3 linked regions of the Homo sapiens genome follow. The protein of the gene in region 2 purifies or fractionates together with the protein of the main gene of each other region. This does not show direct contact. Each region holds a gene or a part of one and is shown on either strand. Other genes may lie near its edges.

What was found. Proteins that work in one complex are often made in the same cells at the same time.
Region 1: the proteins of GBP5 (region 2) and C1orf159 purify together in Homo sapiens (affinity purification with mass spectrometry; 2 studies listed by BioGRID and IntAct, with this or other methods). This does not show direct contact.
Region 3: the proteins of GBP5 (region 2) and APOL2 purify together in Homo sapiens (affinity purification with mass spectrometry; 2 studies listed by BioGRID and IntAct, with this or other methods). This does not show direct contact.

Annotation. Positions count from the first base shown.
Region 1 is NC_000001.11:1,081,292-1,085,109, forward strand, and holds the end of C1orf159 (uncharacterized protein C1orf159 isoform 2 precursor), read right to left. Parts: intron 3,216-3,818; coding exon 3,190-3,215; intron 3,093-3,189; coding exon 3,062-3,092; coding exon of another isoform or gene 2,624-3,061; intron 1,697-2,623; coding exon 1,602-1,696; 3' UTR 532-1,601; downstream 1-531.
Region 2 is NC_000001.11:89,255,856-89,262,906, forward strand, and holds the end of GBP5 (guanylate-binding protein 5), read right to left. Parts: intron 6,931-7,051; coding exon 6,828-6,930; intron 6,547-6,827; coding exon 6,365-6,546; intron 4,963-6,364; coding exon 4,849-4,962; 3' UTR 334-4,848; downstream 1-333.
Region 3 is NC_000022.11:36,225,678-36,229,547, forward strand, and holds the end of APOL2 (apolipoprotein L2), read right to left. Parts: intron 2,604-3,870; coding exon 1,727-2,603; 3' UTR 532-1,726; downstream 1-531.

The DNA.
Region 1 (3,818 bases), about 88 Mb from region 2:
CAGGCAGTGGACGTTTCTGCCTGGGTGGAGGGCACGGTTACGAGAGCAGGGCCCGCGCTCTGGCATCCTGGTGCCCGGGCCCTCTGCCCTCAAGGCCTGTCCTGCCCCAGCTCAGCCCTCTCTGGCCAGGCCCATCACTGTCAGCAAACACCCCCACACTGCTGCCCCCCCAGATGGCCATGGCAGCCCTCCCGGGGCCCGTGTCTGCAGCCCCCACGCAGCCCGGCCGGCCGATGGAAACGCACACCCACACTCTGTCCCACCTCACTCCGAGCTGGGGGTTCGGGGACCACAGGTCCCACCTGCACAGGTTGCATCTGGGGAATGGGCCTGTGGCAGAAAATGTGCGGCGCGGGGCGGGGGGTCCCAACCAGGCAGCCCCAACCTGGACTCTCCTCCACCCCCGTCCCACCTCCTTGCCCCCAGCACACGGTGGCGGAGTGCGTGGGGCCAGCCTGGCGGGGGCTTTGCTCCCCGACCTGCACTTAGAGAACAGAGCATCCTACGGGAGAGAGCAGCTCGGAACGCAGCTTGAGTAATGCCGACTTTATATCAGCACACCCAGTGCCCCCACGTTCCCGCTGGCCCAGGTCCCGGAGACCATGATGGCACCCACAGTGGACTTCGCAAAGGAGCGTGGGGACCCCGAAGGCCAGGCCACCCCTCAGAGGGGGGTCCCATGCTAAAGCAGACGGTGCCGGTGCCGCAGGGCGTCTGAGACCCACGGTGGAGCCCGGGCCTGGCGTGCGGGAGGCGGCCACGACGGCGCCTTTCTCCCAGGAACTCCGGGAGGGACCCCAGGACTCAGCGCCAGGGCAGCCTTGGCAGGTGCAGTGAGGCAGTGACTTGTGGGGGTTAGATGTGGGCCTGCCCCACGTGGGCAGGGATCAGCCAGGCATGGGGGTCCAGCGGATCCGAGCGGGGCCACAGAGCTCTGGAGGACTTTTCTGCACAATGAATTTCTGCTTAAAAACAGAGATCAAGAGGAAGCTCTATCCTGCAGCTCCGGAAATGGGTGGCTGCGTGCTTGGGGTCTCCGCCACGCGGGAGGACAGCCCAGAGGCACCCTGGTCTCAGGCAGCTGGTTCCTAGGCTGTGTCCTCCCCACTGGCCGGGCACCGGCTGGAACGGCACGAGGACCAGCCTCACTGTTCTCAGAGGGGTCTCGGGCCACTGGGTGTGGTGGTGCTGGAGGAGTCCTGCCCGCTGTGGGCTCTGGAGGGCACGGCAGCAGAGCCCCTGGCTTTTCTAGGCAGAGCGGCACCTGCCCCATAGATCGTGCCAGCTTTGGCTGCAGGCGCTGGGGCCTCACCGTGTTTCCTGGGGGGGCCCGGACCCCCCAAGGCCTCGATCTGAAGCTCTGAGGTCTCATGGATGCCTGCTCCTGGTCCGATAAACGAGATGGCTGTGGTGGGGAGGAGCCTCAGGCGGCCCGGGACCCTTTGGCGTCCGTCGCTGGGAGGCGGAGGGACTCAGAGCCGAGGCTGTGCCCAGGACTGTCCCGGGCGCCGGGCGATGCCAACACTTTGTGCTGGTTCCCGCCAAGGGGTCGGCCTCCGGGTCCCTGCCGCCAAGTGCGTGGCGTGGTCTCGGCCTCCAGGTCAGACATTGCTGATACGGGCCTCCCCCGGGAAGGCAGCGGGATCCGTGGCCCTGTCCAGGGGCCGCTCCCGCCTGACGTAGCGCGGCTTCCGTACTGAAACGGGTCAGAGACAGGCGAGGTCAGAGTGGGACCTGGACAGCAGGGACAGTGCAGGCCTCAGCCCTCACCGGAGGCTCTCGGGAGTGGGCATATGGCACAGGCGCCCGGGGCTGTTTACTCTGACCAGGTGGGAACCCAGATGCCCCCTGCCCCTAAGGCGCCCTCAGAGCTCCAGCTCGGGAAAGGGACGGCTTCCTCCTGCCCGGCTGTGTCCTCTCATTTACACCCTGGGCCCCGGGGCCTGGACAAGGGCCAGGCGATCCCCGAAGACAGAGATGTGGGTCCCAGAGTATCATGCACCTCAGGGGGCGACAAGCAGGCCGTAGTCCCAAGACCTCGAATGTGACCTTATTTAGAAGAAGGGGCTTTGCAGGGGGTTACGTCAGGGTCTCAGGTGTGATCGCCCAGGGTTCCCCGGGCAGGCCCTGAAACAACGGCCAGGGCCCACCTGAGAGAGAGGCAGAGAGAGAAGACGCAGAGGTGGGGGAGACGCCGTGGGACCAGGGGACAGAGACGGGCAACGCAGCCACAGATGCCTGAGCCGGCAGGGGCTGGGAAGGCAGACAGCGTCCTCCCCGGAGCCTCGGGAAGCGTGTGGCCTTGTTTGCCCCTTGGTTTTGGACTTCTGAACTCTAGGATAGTCAGATTAAAGGTCTGCTGTTGAAGCTGGCAGCCCCGGGGCACTCGGGCACCGTGGGGTCTGCTGGGCACTTGCAGACAGGGCTGCTTTAGGGACGGGGCACGTCCAGCCTTGATGGAGAACGGTCTGTCCCCTAAAGGCACGGTCACCTGCCCCCATGACAGACTTCTGCACAGGGGGACGGAGGCCGGGTGAGCCCTGCTCATGGCCTTGGAGCTGTGTGGCTGTGCGCCGGTCACTCAGCCTGTGTCTGTGGCCCCGCACATAAAATGGGTCCTAACCGGGCTGACTCTTGGGTCCGCCTGACCCAGCACCACTGAAGCGATGGCTGCTCAGGAGGGCCTGGCGGAGGCCGGCTGCGTCTGTCCTCGGGTGGAGCTGGACTTCAAGGAGGAGCAGGTATTGGGGGTCTGCCCTGTCGTGGTGGGTCCTCCTTTCCTGCAGACCCCACGTCTCGGGAACAGGAAAGAGCATGGAAGTCACGGGGATTAAAGGGGGGCGGGCAGGGGGCGCCGGCCAAATCCAGCTGAGATCCAGAGCAGGGGGCACCAGCCAAATCCGGCCCTGGCCCTGCCTTGTGGGTGGGTCTCCTGGGGACCCGGGCAGGGGTGGCCGAGATCCAGAGCCAGGCAAACCCGTTTGGGGACAAACCCACAGAGCACCCTGGGACTGGCCCAGAGATGGGAAACCCCACAGGGGGATGCGACAGCTGCTGTTACCTGAGGACTGTGGCGGGGGGATCATTGCAGCCTTGAAAAGGAGAGAAAGGCAGAGTGAGGACTCGGGATGGCCTGGCACAGGCACACGCGGCCAGGGACGCTCAGCCCGGATGATGTGGGTTACTTACGGCTTCGCCAGGCTGCAGGGCCGGAGCTGTGGGGGAGAAAGCGGAGAGTCACCCTGGAGCCCAGGAGCTGCCTCAACCTCAGCCCAGTGCAGCGTCCGGGACAGCAGAGCGAGGAGCTGCCTCAGCCTCAGCCCAGTGCGGCGTCCTCGGAGCAGCAGAGGCCCCGGGGCTGCAGGGTCTCCCCCAACCTCTCCCTGCGGTGCATCAGCCTGGCCCTCGGTCCTGCCACATTCCTCCGGGGCACTCACAGGTGCGGGGGCCTCCCTAGCACCCCAGGTGAGTCCCCGCTCCCTGGACCCACCTTCCCGCCTCAGCAGAGGGGACAAGCCCCCCTCATGAGAAGCGTCTCCCCAGGCTCCAGGGTCCCAGGGGAAGGGCTGCCCTCCCACCCTCCCGGGAGGAGCCTCAGGCACGAGGTGGCTTTGAGCCCCACGGCCGTGGGCTTCTGCCTCCATGGTGCCCCCGCGATGGGGGTGCCGTGGCATCGTGGCCAACCTGGCTTCTCGTCCCGTGGCCACCAGGGCTGACCAAGCCCTGAGCCCTGCTCTGCTCCAAGGGTGCCCATAGGCAGAGATGCTGAGCAGGCCGGGTCTCTCGGTGCCTGGCTGTGCAGGAGACCCTGGCAGCGG
Region 2 (7,051 bases):
CATGGTGAGACGCTATCTCTACTAAAAATGCAAAAATTAGCCAGGCATAGTGGTGTGTGCCTGTAGTCCCAGCTAGTTGGGAGGCTGAGGCATGAGAATTGCTTGAACCTGGGAGGCAGAAGTTGCCTTGAGCCGAGATCATGCCACTTCACTCCAGCCTGGGTGATAGAGTGAGACTCTGTCTCATAAAAAAAAAAAAACAGAAAAAAAAAAGAATGTCCTTAATAACATTTCATAAGGTAAACCTGAAAATCCAGATATGTATTAATAGTAGAATGAATTGTTATCTTTAAACAGTAGAATATATATAGCTTACAACTACACACAATGAACTAGATGAATCTTATAAAGATTTTATTAACAAATGAAGCAAGGCATAAAAGAATACAAACAATGTAATTCCATTTAAATAAAGTTTGAAAACAGGCCAAACAAAATTACATTACTTAGGAGCTCACATGTTTATAATAAAATCCTAGAAAATAGTTGTGAAAGTTGTGATATTAGTTGGCTCTAGCAGGGTTGTCAGAAGTTGTCATATACACCTATAGAATTTTAGTAATGCTGAATGTATGTACCTGGGTTGTTACTTGTGCGTTCATCTTGTAATTTATTTATATTGAATATTGTACATTTTATGTTTTTTGTACTCTTCAGTATGTGTCACATTTAATAATTTTGAAAAACAGAGAATGGGATGTAACTAACTAAAATATTGCTTTGAAAGGGAACAAAGATTGTGTTGAAACTGACTGAGACATGGGGTCAAGAGAGATTTCAAGAGTTTTGAGTCACATTTAGAAAGGCCCTCTCCTCTACAGGTTTATGAAGAACATAACCTTGATTTCTTCAAATGCATTTTCATAGTTTTACATTTTATATTTTATCAATTTGGGTGTGGTTCCTTTTTCTTATTTTAGTGTATTGTGTGTGAGGTCTGGTTACAACTTGATCTTTTCCTATATGGCCATCCAGTAGTCCCAACCTACTAAGAAGTCTATCTTTACCCTGTATTATTCCTATAAAGTCTATTTTTTGGACTTTCTATTCTGTTGGTGATCGTTATACACTAGAGTCATTACCACATTTTCTCTACTTCATTTTAGAAATTTCTTTACCTGCTTATTTTGTGCTGAATTCTTATACATTGTTTTGAATCTATGCTTTTGATTTCAATTATTTTAGTAATTCCTTCTAAATTTTAACACATTATTCAGTATTTCTATGTTTTCCTAAGTATATTAGTCCATTTTCATACTGCTATGAAGAAATACTCAAGACTGGGTAATTTATAAAGGAAAAGAGATGTAATGGACTTGTAGTTTCACATGGGTGGGGAGGCCTCACAACCACAGCAGAAGATGAAAGAGGAACAAAGGCACATCTTACATGGTGTCAGGCAAGAGAGCATGTGCAGGGGAATTGCCCTTTATGAAGCCATCAGATCTCAGGCGACTTATTCACTATCATGAAAAAAGCACATGAAAACCCACCCCCATGATTTGATTACCTCCCACCTGGTCCCTCCCACAACACGTGGGCATTATGGGAGCCATAATTCAAGATGAGATTTGAGTGGACACAGCCAAACCGTATCACTAAGCAAGATAAGAAAGTACCACAAGATGGTTATTAATGTGGGTTCTAAATTCAAAAGGCCTTCTGTGGTACTGACCTTAATTTATTTAATTTCAATGCTTTAACAATAATAACTTTAATAATGATAACACTAACATACATTGATAATATTGTTTAAAATAACAATTGCCATAAAACAATACTAAATGTTTATAAGGTTTTTATGAGCAACAGGTGAATTACTACAGTGACCATAATAAAGTGATCCATAATAAATTCCAAATATCTCTTAGCTGGTATGAATAACTATTCATAGTATTAACTAATAAAGATTTTGTACTTGTTTCCTATTGCTGCTATAACAAATTATTACTAATTTTGTGGCTTAAAACAACAGAAGCTTATTATCTTACAGTTTTGGAAATCAGAAGTCTGTGAAGCTTAAATCAAGATGTTAACAAGGCTGCATTCCATCTGCAGGCTCTAGGGGAGAATCTATTGCTTTGCTTTTCATTACATTTAAAACTAGATCAGTTGATTTCACAACAGTAAGACAAAGAAAGTCAGAAAATATAAGCTACTTACTGGTAGTTTCAAGAAATCATCAATGTTTACCTTACAGTGCCTTTTCTTGTTCTTTTGCACCCAGTGACAGATCTCTAACCTGTGAGATCAGAGTATTTGGGGATGAGTGGGATCCAGGGAAGCTGGTGGGGAAGAATATCTGTGGATCACTAATGAAAGCAGCATGCCTCTCTGGTTTTTGGTGGGGGAGATATAATAGCAAAAGTTAAATTAGACTAGAAATCAACTACTTTGTAACATGGTCTAGGTTAACAGTAACAAGGTGTGAAACCTTAAATGACTTAATTTTCTGAGTCTCAGGATTTTAAAAAATTTCTTTAAGATGGGTAATAAAGATATCAATATTTAATTTGGAGATAGAGCTATTCTTTTTACTGATAACATTTCCTTGGATGATAAAATGTATTTTTTTCTTTATAAATTGCACAGCTTGAAAAGGTAATTGTAGGGTATTGCTAGACAAATGCTCAGTTGAATATGCTGGTACCTTCTGAACTTCAGTTCAAATCTAGAAATACTGCTGAGTAGCACCACATCCTATCTGATATGAAAAATTCCTCATATTAAAGCTCTTCAAAGAACAGTAAAAAGAGCAGACACTAAAATTTTTCGGCTTTTTTCTGTATATAAGTAAATCATATTTTGGGTGACTAAAAAAATTCAAGCTCCTATCATATTACCTAAGTGGAAAATTCCTTATATGAGTAAGTACTTATAAGGGAGAAAAACAGAGCTTTGTGTAATGTTTCTATAATTTAAACAAAAAAAATTTTACTGGAGATATACAAAACAAAGTAACAAAAAGTACATAAAAAGATGTAATAAAGTGTGTTTTAATTCTAGTCTTAAAGCAATTCTTAATCTCCTTAGGGAAATTCAGTCTTTCTCTATAGACTTTTAACTTTGAGAAAAATACAAACAAAGGAACTGATTTATGGTTTTCCAAAAATGTTTTTATGGTTAAAATCTGTACAAACAGATATATTTATATAAGTTACATATTTTAAGAAAAATCAGTCATTTTTCATATATAATTGCAAAGAATTAAGATCATTTAACTTTAGCACTATAAGCAAGCATTAAATTAAATGCACTCAGATTTTTGGCACATTATATGGCATTCCTTATACCACATATTTATAAGATCTAAAGGATTATAAACATATTACACATAATAATTAAGTCCAATATAAATTGTGTTCAGGTTATAAAATGCCCTATTTAAGTTGTGCTCTTGGTGAGGGTGAACAGAAAAGAAAAGGCTTCTTCTTTAGCCCTTAAGCCTATGACACAATTTCCATGCTGGTAATTCCTTTCATCTTCTGAAGAATCTCTATTTTATTATAACATTATTGGCTTTCAGCTTGGAATTTCTCTACGCAGATTGTCTATTGACAGTGCCAAGGAAACATCTCACTGTCCACAGAATAGCAGCCTCCACCCAGTTGAAAGCTGCACATTGTTTCCACTTTACCATTGGTACTTCCCTCTGATGGCATCCAGCACACGACCATTAGCCTGAGTGATGCCCAACTGAGCCCAGACTTTGGTCAAGTTCCTTCCGACTGAGCCCAGTTAGGGACACCCTGCCCCCAGAGGAATATAACAAGCCCCCTCCCCTAGCTGCCCTGCAGCTTATTTTTCGTCCAAAAGGTCGCCCCCACCGCAAGTTCCCAGAACTTAGGTGCCACTATAACCACCCCTAAGCTAAACCACATCCTGGTACCCTGAGCCAGGCGGGGGCAAAAACTGACAAACTGCAGGATGTGGCCATACTGGGAGGAAAAGTCTCCACAAATGGCCTTGCCCCCCCGACACCCCCGCACACACACACAAAACCCCTGCAGACCTACTTATACCCCTTAGCCTGTAAGCCCGGTGTCTGCCTCCTCAGATTTCTGTAGAGCAGCCCAGCAGGTTAATAAATTTGCTTGCCGACTTTGGGTCTTCTTGTCCTTTCTCTTGGCTAACCTTATAAGCCCATGTGCATAACTCCCTCTAGGTCAGCGGTCCCCCAACCTATTTGGCATCAGGGACCAGTTTCGTGGAAGGTAATTTTTCCACAGAGGGTTGGCGGGGGTTGGAGGTGGGGTGGCGTTATTGGTTTCTGGTTTATATTGTTCCACAAGGATCACACAACCTAGATCTTTTGCATGCACAGTTCACAATAGGGTTCCCACTCCTGTGAGAATCTAATGTCACTGCTGATCTGACAGGAGGTGGAGCTCAGGCTGTAATGCTCACTTACCTGCTGCTCACCTCCTGCTGTGTGGCCGGGTTCCTAAGAGGCCACAGATCAGAGCTAGTCTATGGCCTGAGGGTTGGGAAGCCCTGCTCTAGGTAACATAATCCCCTTATGAGAAATTAGACAGATGACATTGAGATGCAAGGAAAGCATCTCCTGATGAAACCATCCCAATATCACGCATAAATGAAGGCAGTGATACAATGTCCCTTATACAATTTATAATCTCTTAAAGGAAGCAATAAACATTTAAACTATTGGACTACTGGGATGTACATTTTACCAGATACCAGCATCATAATCTTATAACTCTATATGAAAGTTTGAAAAAATAATTATAAAGTTTATTTAAATGTTGATTGTCCCAAGGTCTACAGTTTCTTTTCTGTTGTGTCATCAGTGACAAAGAGTAAAAAAAGGAAACTCCCATATTTAGCACTTTAGAGTAAAACACATGGATCATCGTTATTAACAGTCCTCTGGGCGTGCTGGAGCTCACTGAGAAGGCTTCTATTTTGAGCTTGGAATGTTGTGCTGAGCTGTGCAGCCTGTTCCTAAAGAGTGATAAATAGAAAGTAAGATCAAGCTTCTTACTGATTGCCTAAATCACTCACTTGTCCTTACTTCTTTTCATCTACAGTAGCAGTAAACAGTTCCTGAATATCTCTCTTCCATTCACGTGCATCTAACCTATTTCTGTAATTATTCACCCTCCTTGTCTTTCTCTAGCTCCAGAAATGGTCATTTCTCATCCCTGGAATATTGGTGTCCCTAGGATTCCAAACCAAAGCTCCCTTCCCCCTTAAACCACACGATCTCCTTGGGCAATCTTAGTCACATCTTGACTTCAATTCTCATACACACACAGGAGACTCTCAGATATATTTCTAAGAGAAGAGGCTGATACAAAAACAGTGTATCTAAGTGACATCGGAATCAGGTGGGCTGTCCAATCTTTACATACATAAGAGAATTTGTTCCAGGTCACCACAGAAGTAGGAGAAAAGAGTGAATACATAAATAACCACATGCTGCTCATACTGCTCTTTAGGAAGGAGCTGCAATCAGAAATATTTTAGAGTAACTTCTGAAAAACTAGTACCTACAAACTGGCAAGCCAAGGGGAAGAATTAGGATGTCATTTGTCTCATTAGGGTGCTGACATAGGAATTTTACACCAGGTCTGAAGAAGCAAAAACACTGCAGATTCCACTCATTTGGAAGGCAGTTTTGTTAATGTGCTAGGCTTGTGTGATATTTGCATTGATTATCTCTTTGAAACCCCACTTATCTCATCTGAAAAATGAGGACACAGTAGTTCTGCTTTACAGTGAATGGATTAGATGAGATAATGCATGTAAAGTGCTATGACAGTGACTGATAAATAATAACTACTGGAGAGTGCTTGGTAACTACTGACAGTGATTGGTAAATAAAAGTAAAGGACCGGATGAAACAAACTGGCAAATTAAAGGCCTTCAGAACAGAGATGATCAAGGCAAGAACAGGGGCATAGACACAGTAACATGAAATCAGATTAACAAAGTATCTATGACCAAAGCAAAAGATCATCCAGGACAATTAACAAGTCAACAGGAAAGACCAGTTACTGCAGCCCAGAAATGCCTTGGTTTTTATTTAACAACATATAGTGCTTACTCTGTATCGGGCACCATTTAAACACAAATATTAACTCATTTAATTATCAAAATAACCCTATAACATAGATATCATCACTGTGTCCATTTTACACAAGAGGAAAATTAGGCACAGAGGTGATAGATAACTTGCCTAAACCATATACTTACTAAGAGGTGGAGCTTGGATTCATACCCAGACTTTCTGGCTCCAGACTCCCTGCTGAGAGCCACAAGATCTTGCTGCCTCTCCCTCTTTGCCACTGCTACATACTCTCATCGTTACAGGCAGGGGAGAGATGAAACAATTGATGAATACCTGCATCTGTTGTTCCTGCATTTTCTGTTGCTCTGCCAGCCAATTTTGTTTGGCTATCTCCATTTGTCTCACTTGTTCCTGATGGAGTCTCTCCCTCTCCTGCATCATTTGCTCGTTCTGCCTTTGAATCGCCGCCAACCTTTGCGCTTCAGCCTTTTCAGCTTCTGCTTTCACTTGTGCCTCTGAGGAGAAAAAGATAATCTTCTCTAGGATTAATGTGCCTCTTCCTTCTGCCTCCCACTTTTGTTTGTGATTGTTCCAACTTCCTGGATAAAATTCCCAGGGGTTGTTTTTCCCTTCCAGGTAACCACAATGCAGGATCATGCCAGTCAGATATGCTTGAGGAGCTAAGAAGCATCTTTGCCATTCTTGCTCTAGTTTAACATCCCATGAGGGCCAGGCCAAATTTATTTAAAATTTATAGATTTCTTTCTATCTTGCATAATTTCCACTTTCTTCTCACCTTTCTTCTTTTTTTCCGTCTCTGTGAGAGCCTGGTCAGTCTGTAATATTGCATGACTCACAGACTCCTTGGACTTTAAATATTTCTGCAGAACTTCTTCAGCCTAGCAACCCGGAAAACATGCAGTTAGATGCAGGAAATGGTGATTAGGAATGTTGTAAACATCTTTGTCTTGTTCCTTCCAGCAGCATCTATTCCTCATAGGAGAGGCTTGCCATAGGAGA
Region 3 (3,870 bases), on a different chromosome or scaffold from region 2:
CCCTGAGACCCTGGAAGAAGGATCATGAGGAAGGTTAAGTCAGGCACCCAGAGCCCAGGGGAGCCTCCATCGGCACCACAAAGTCACAGCCATCAGTCAGTGCTGATTGACTCAAGTCTCCAGAACACAAGATGGGGAGAGCAAGGTGGACCTGAGATATCACCTTTTCCAGCCCCCTTCTACAGCTGATGAGGAAACTGAGGCTCAGAGGGGTGAAGTCTCATGACCACAAGCAGGGTTGAACTCCTGGACACACCTCAAGCTTCCTTGACCTGTTCCTGGCATCTCCTTTCATTTTTCCTTTCTTCCCAAATTAACCTCTTTCCAACACAGCACTTCAAGTTCCCCTGGAACTTCATCGGTCCATCGGTGTCCCCTGGTCTGGAAGAGCACCGACCACTTGCCAAGGCCCCCACCACTCTGCTGCCATCACAACCACCATCACCACCATTACGAGAAAAACTTGAGACTGATGGCCCCCAAAGCTTAGAAGGAGCTGAGAGACCAAAGAATGACTCGAACAAGTCCAGCTTGGTGAGTAGGTGAGTTTATTGGGACTTACACACAGGTCAATCCTGGGCAGCGACAGGACAGCTCTAGAGATCTGTGCTTCCTCCCAATGCTAAACTGCTTTCATGCTAATCTTCTGACTGTTTACTTACCGGCTAAGAGCGATGGGACTGTTTTCATTGGTTGGTTCTCAGATACTCTCTGGGAAGTTTGGGTTCTCAGGGACACCTGCTCCTCAGCTGGGGATTGTGGCCATGGCCTACCACCTGCCTCTCAGGGTTCAAGCAGGGGACATGCACCCTTTAGTAACCTGGAGGGGACCCGTCACATGACAACCACCCCAACCACCATCATGAAGAAGCCACTGGCTGACTGTGATACACCCCCAGAAGGACAAGGGAGAGTGGATGCTGGAAAGACAGAGCGAGAGACCATCACCAGGGAAAGACTTTATTCTTGGAAGGACATCAAACCTGGGGGGGGGTCGGTAGTGGAGCTGCTGTTTCTTCTCCTGTATCCAACAGTTCTAACTCTGGTTTTCTCCATTTTCAGCTCTTTCTTTTCCTGGCCTTCTCATTGCTGGTTCCTGCAAGCTCCCCCTCTATTCTTCGCCCAATATATTCTTTAGTCCAAAGTAAACTACTTCTTCCCATTCCCCACACTCTCCAGTCCTCTCTCCTCCCTTATTGCAGGCTCCAGTGTTCCTGCCTTCTCCTTGGTGCACTTGCCATCTGCATTAACCCCTCCCTTGCTGTGCTCAGCTACACAAATGCCAAAGTCACTAACACTCAGTTCCATAAGCTTTACCTTGCCCTCCTTATCCCCCTAATAAAATGTCTGCATTTTGGCCAGGCGCGGTGGCTCACGCCTGTAATCCCAGCACTTTGGGAGGCCGAGGTGGGCAGATCACGAGGTCAGGAGATGGAGACCATCGTGGCTAACACAGTGAAACCCCGTCTCCAGTGAAAATACAAAAAAATTAGCCGGGCGTGGTGGCAGGTGCCTGTAGTCCCAGCTACTCGGGAGACTGAGGCCGGAGAATGGTGTGAACCCGGGAGGCGGAGTTTGCAGTGAGCCGAGATTGAGCCACTGCACTCCATCCTGGGCGATAGAGCGAGACTCCATCTCAAAAAAAAAAAAAAAAAAAAAAAAAAGTCTGCATTTTGTCCTGGCCTGTGCCCGGCATTTCTGCCCTGGTGGCTGCACTGCTCTGGGGTCATTGGTCTTGGCCTGGCTGCAGCATCTCATGGATCTTGGTGAGAAAGTTGAGCTTCCCCTCCAGCTCCTGAGCCCGCTTCTTCAGCTCCTCAGCTGACTCTGACTTTGCCCCCTCAAGCAAGTGCTTTGACTCATATGCAAGGCTGACCACATCCAGCAGAAGCAAGATGCCTCCAGTGGCTGCACCCACGATCATGGTTCCTCTGCTCATTGCCTGGGCGGGGCCTTCAACAACCCTCTCAACCTGTTCACCGCCTTCAGCTGAGATTCGCCCAATGACATGCGGGGGTGGGGCATACGCTCCTAACTGAGGGTTGGCTCTGGCTCGTCTGATGGCACGGATGTTCCTCCCAATCCCTTGTGTGACTTGGTACCAATTGTCAACTAAGGTAAGAACATTGGGTGTGTTCCCACCCACAAACTCCTTCATCACCTTTGCTACATTGGTGCCGCTTTGGTCCAAGTTGCGGGCTTGGGCTCGTGCCCGCAATTTGTTTACTAGTTCTACCACACTGCAGGTAATCCCAGCCACAGCAGCTGCTGCTCCCAGACCCATGCCAGTGTCCAAGAGCACAAAACTGATTCCTTCTGTGAAGGGTGCCAGACCCAGGCCGAGGAGGGTCAGGATGCCAGAGGTAGTGCCAACAGAGTTGGACACCACATTGGCAATGGTGGTGCCTCTGTGGACCTGCTCAACCTCCTCTGCAAGGGCACGGAGCTTCCTTATGTGATCCTCAAGCTCCCTTTTCAACCGAGGAAACTCTTTCAAAAACCACTGCCTGTGCTGCTGGTCTTTATCGTGGCGGTTTTTGTCCTTCATGACCATGTGACTTGCAAGCTTGTTCAGAGCTTTACGGAGCTCATCTGCCTCATCCCTGCACAAGGAAAGGTTAAAGGATTAAGAAATGCAGTTTCCCTATCTGTGAAATGAGCTCCATGCGATCTCTATCCTGTGTAAATTGCAGAGCTTTCACTATCAATCAAATAGAAACAAATTTTACAAATGGAATTAATTATCTTTCAAACTCAAACACATTTTGTTCATCATAGATATTCCTCAGTACTTATTCCATATGGAAATAAATATCTTAAAGGCACCTCAGATGCTCTTTCATGGTAGGTGTTTGATAAAGATGCCTCCTCACTCAAGGGCAGGTCAACACCGTGACTGCCAAAGTGTTTGGAGAGGGAAAACTCTGCAGATGAACAAAGAGCAGTGAGAGTGAGACAAAGAGACCTTATTACCAGGATGGCAGGAAAGTGAAGCATGAACTTTACCCAAAGAGAGGCCTTCCCTTTGTCCTCAGCTCCTGGGAAGTGATCTCCAGGCCCCTGGAATGTCCTGCCTGGTAGGAACATCTTTCTTTGCCTGGTGATTTGGCCACGGGACAGTATAGCGATGTGATGGATGATAGGGTTTGGGGCTATTTGGTGTCTTTCCTGACTTCCAGAGGACTTGGGGACTAAAGGTGTGAGATCTCAGGGAAGGGCTGGAGACTCTAGCCATGAGGGCAGCTTGTGATCCAGCCCCAGCAGATACTCTGGACACTAAGGCATGGGTTGAGAAAGAAGGACTTTCTCCTTGACCAACTCCAGCTGGGCTCTTCAGAGCTTCTTCTCCACTAGGCGCCGACCTTGGCCTTCCACACTCACCCACTGCTTTCTGGACTTGCACCACCTTGGCTCAGCAAGAATCTCCCCAAATCAGTTTAGGGAGGGTCCTCCCCGCTTGCTGTCTGAGCACCGTTTGTTATCTGATCATGCTCCTCACCCCCACCACTGGTGGTTGAGGGTCTGACCTGCCTTTGGCGAGAATCCTGTTAGGCCAGTTTAGCAGGAACCCCCCACTCTGGCGTCTCCTGTCAGTCCTGTTCCATCTCCCGCCCCCACCCTGGTGTTGGCTGTGACTCCCCCTCTGTCTTTACTATATTTGGAGCTGGGCTCAGTCTCCCTCCCCTGTAACAACAATCCTGAATAAAGGCTTCATTTCTGGTTTAATGTGATTCACAGGAATTTTTCCTTAACTGGGTGAGCTTCCCTGGTTGGCAACACCGCATGTGTTTTGTCCCACATTCACACAGGAGAACACAGCCTCCTGAGGACAATGAAGATTCACACCTGAAATCCTCCCAGACTCTGCCC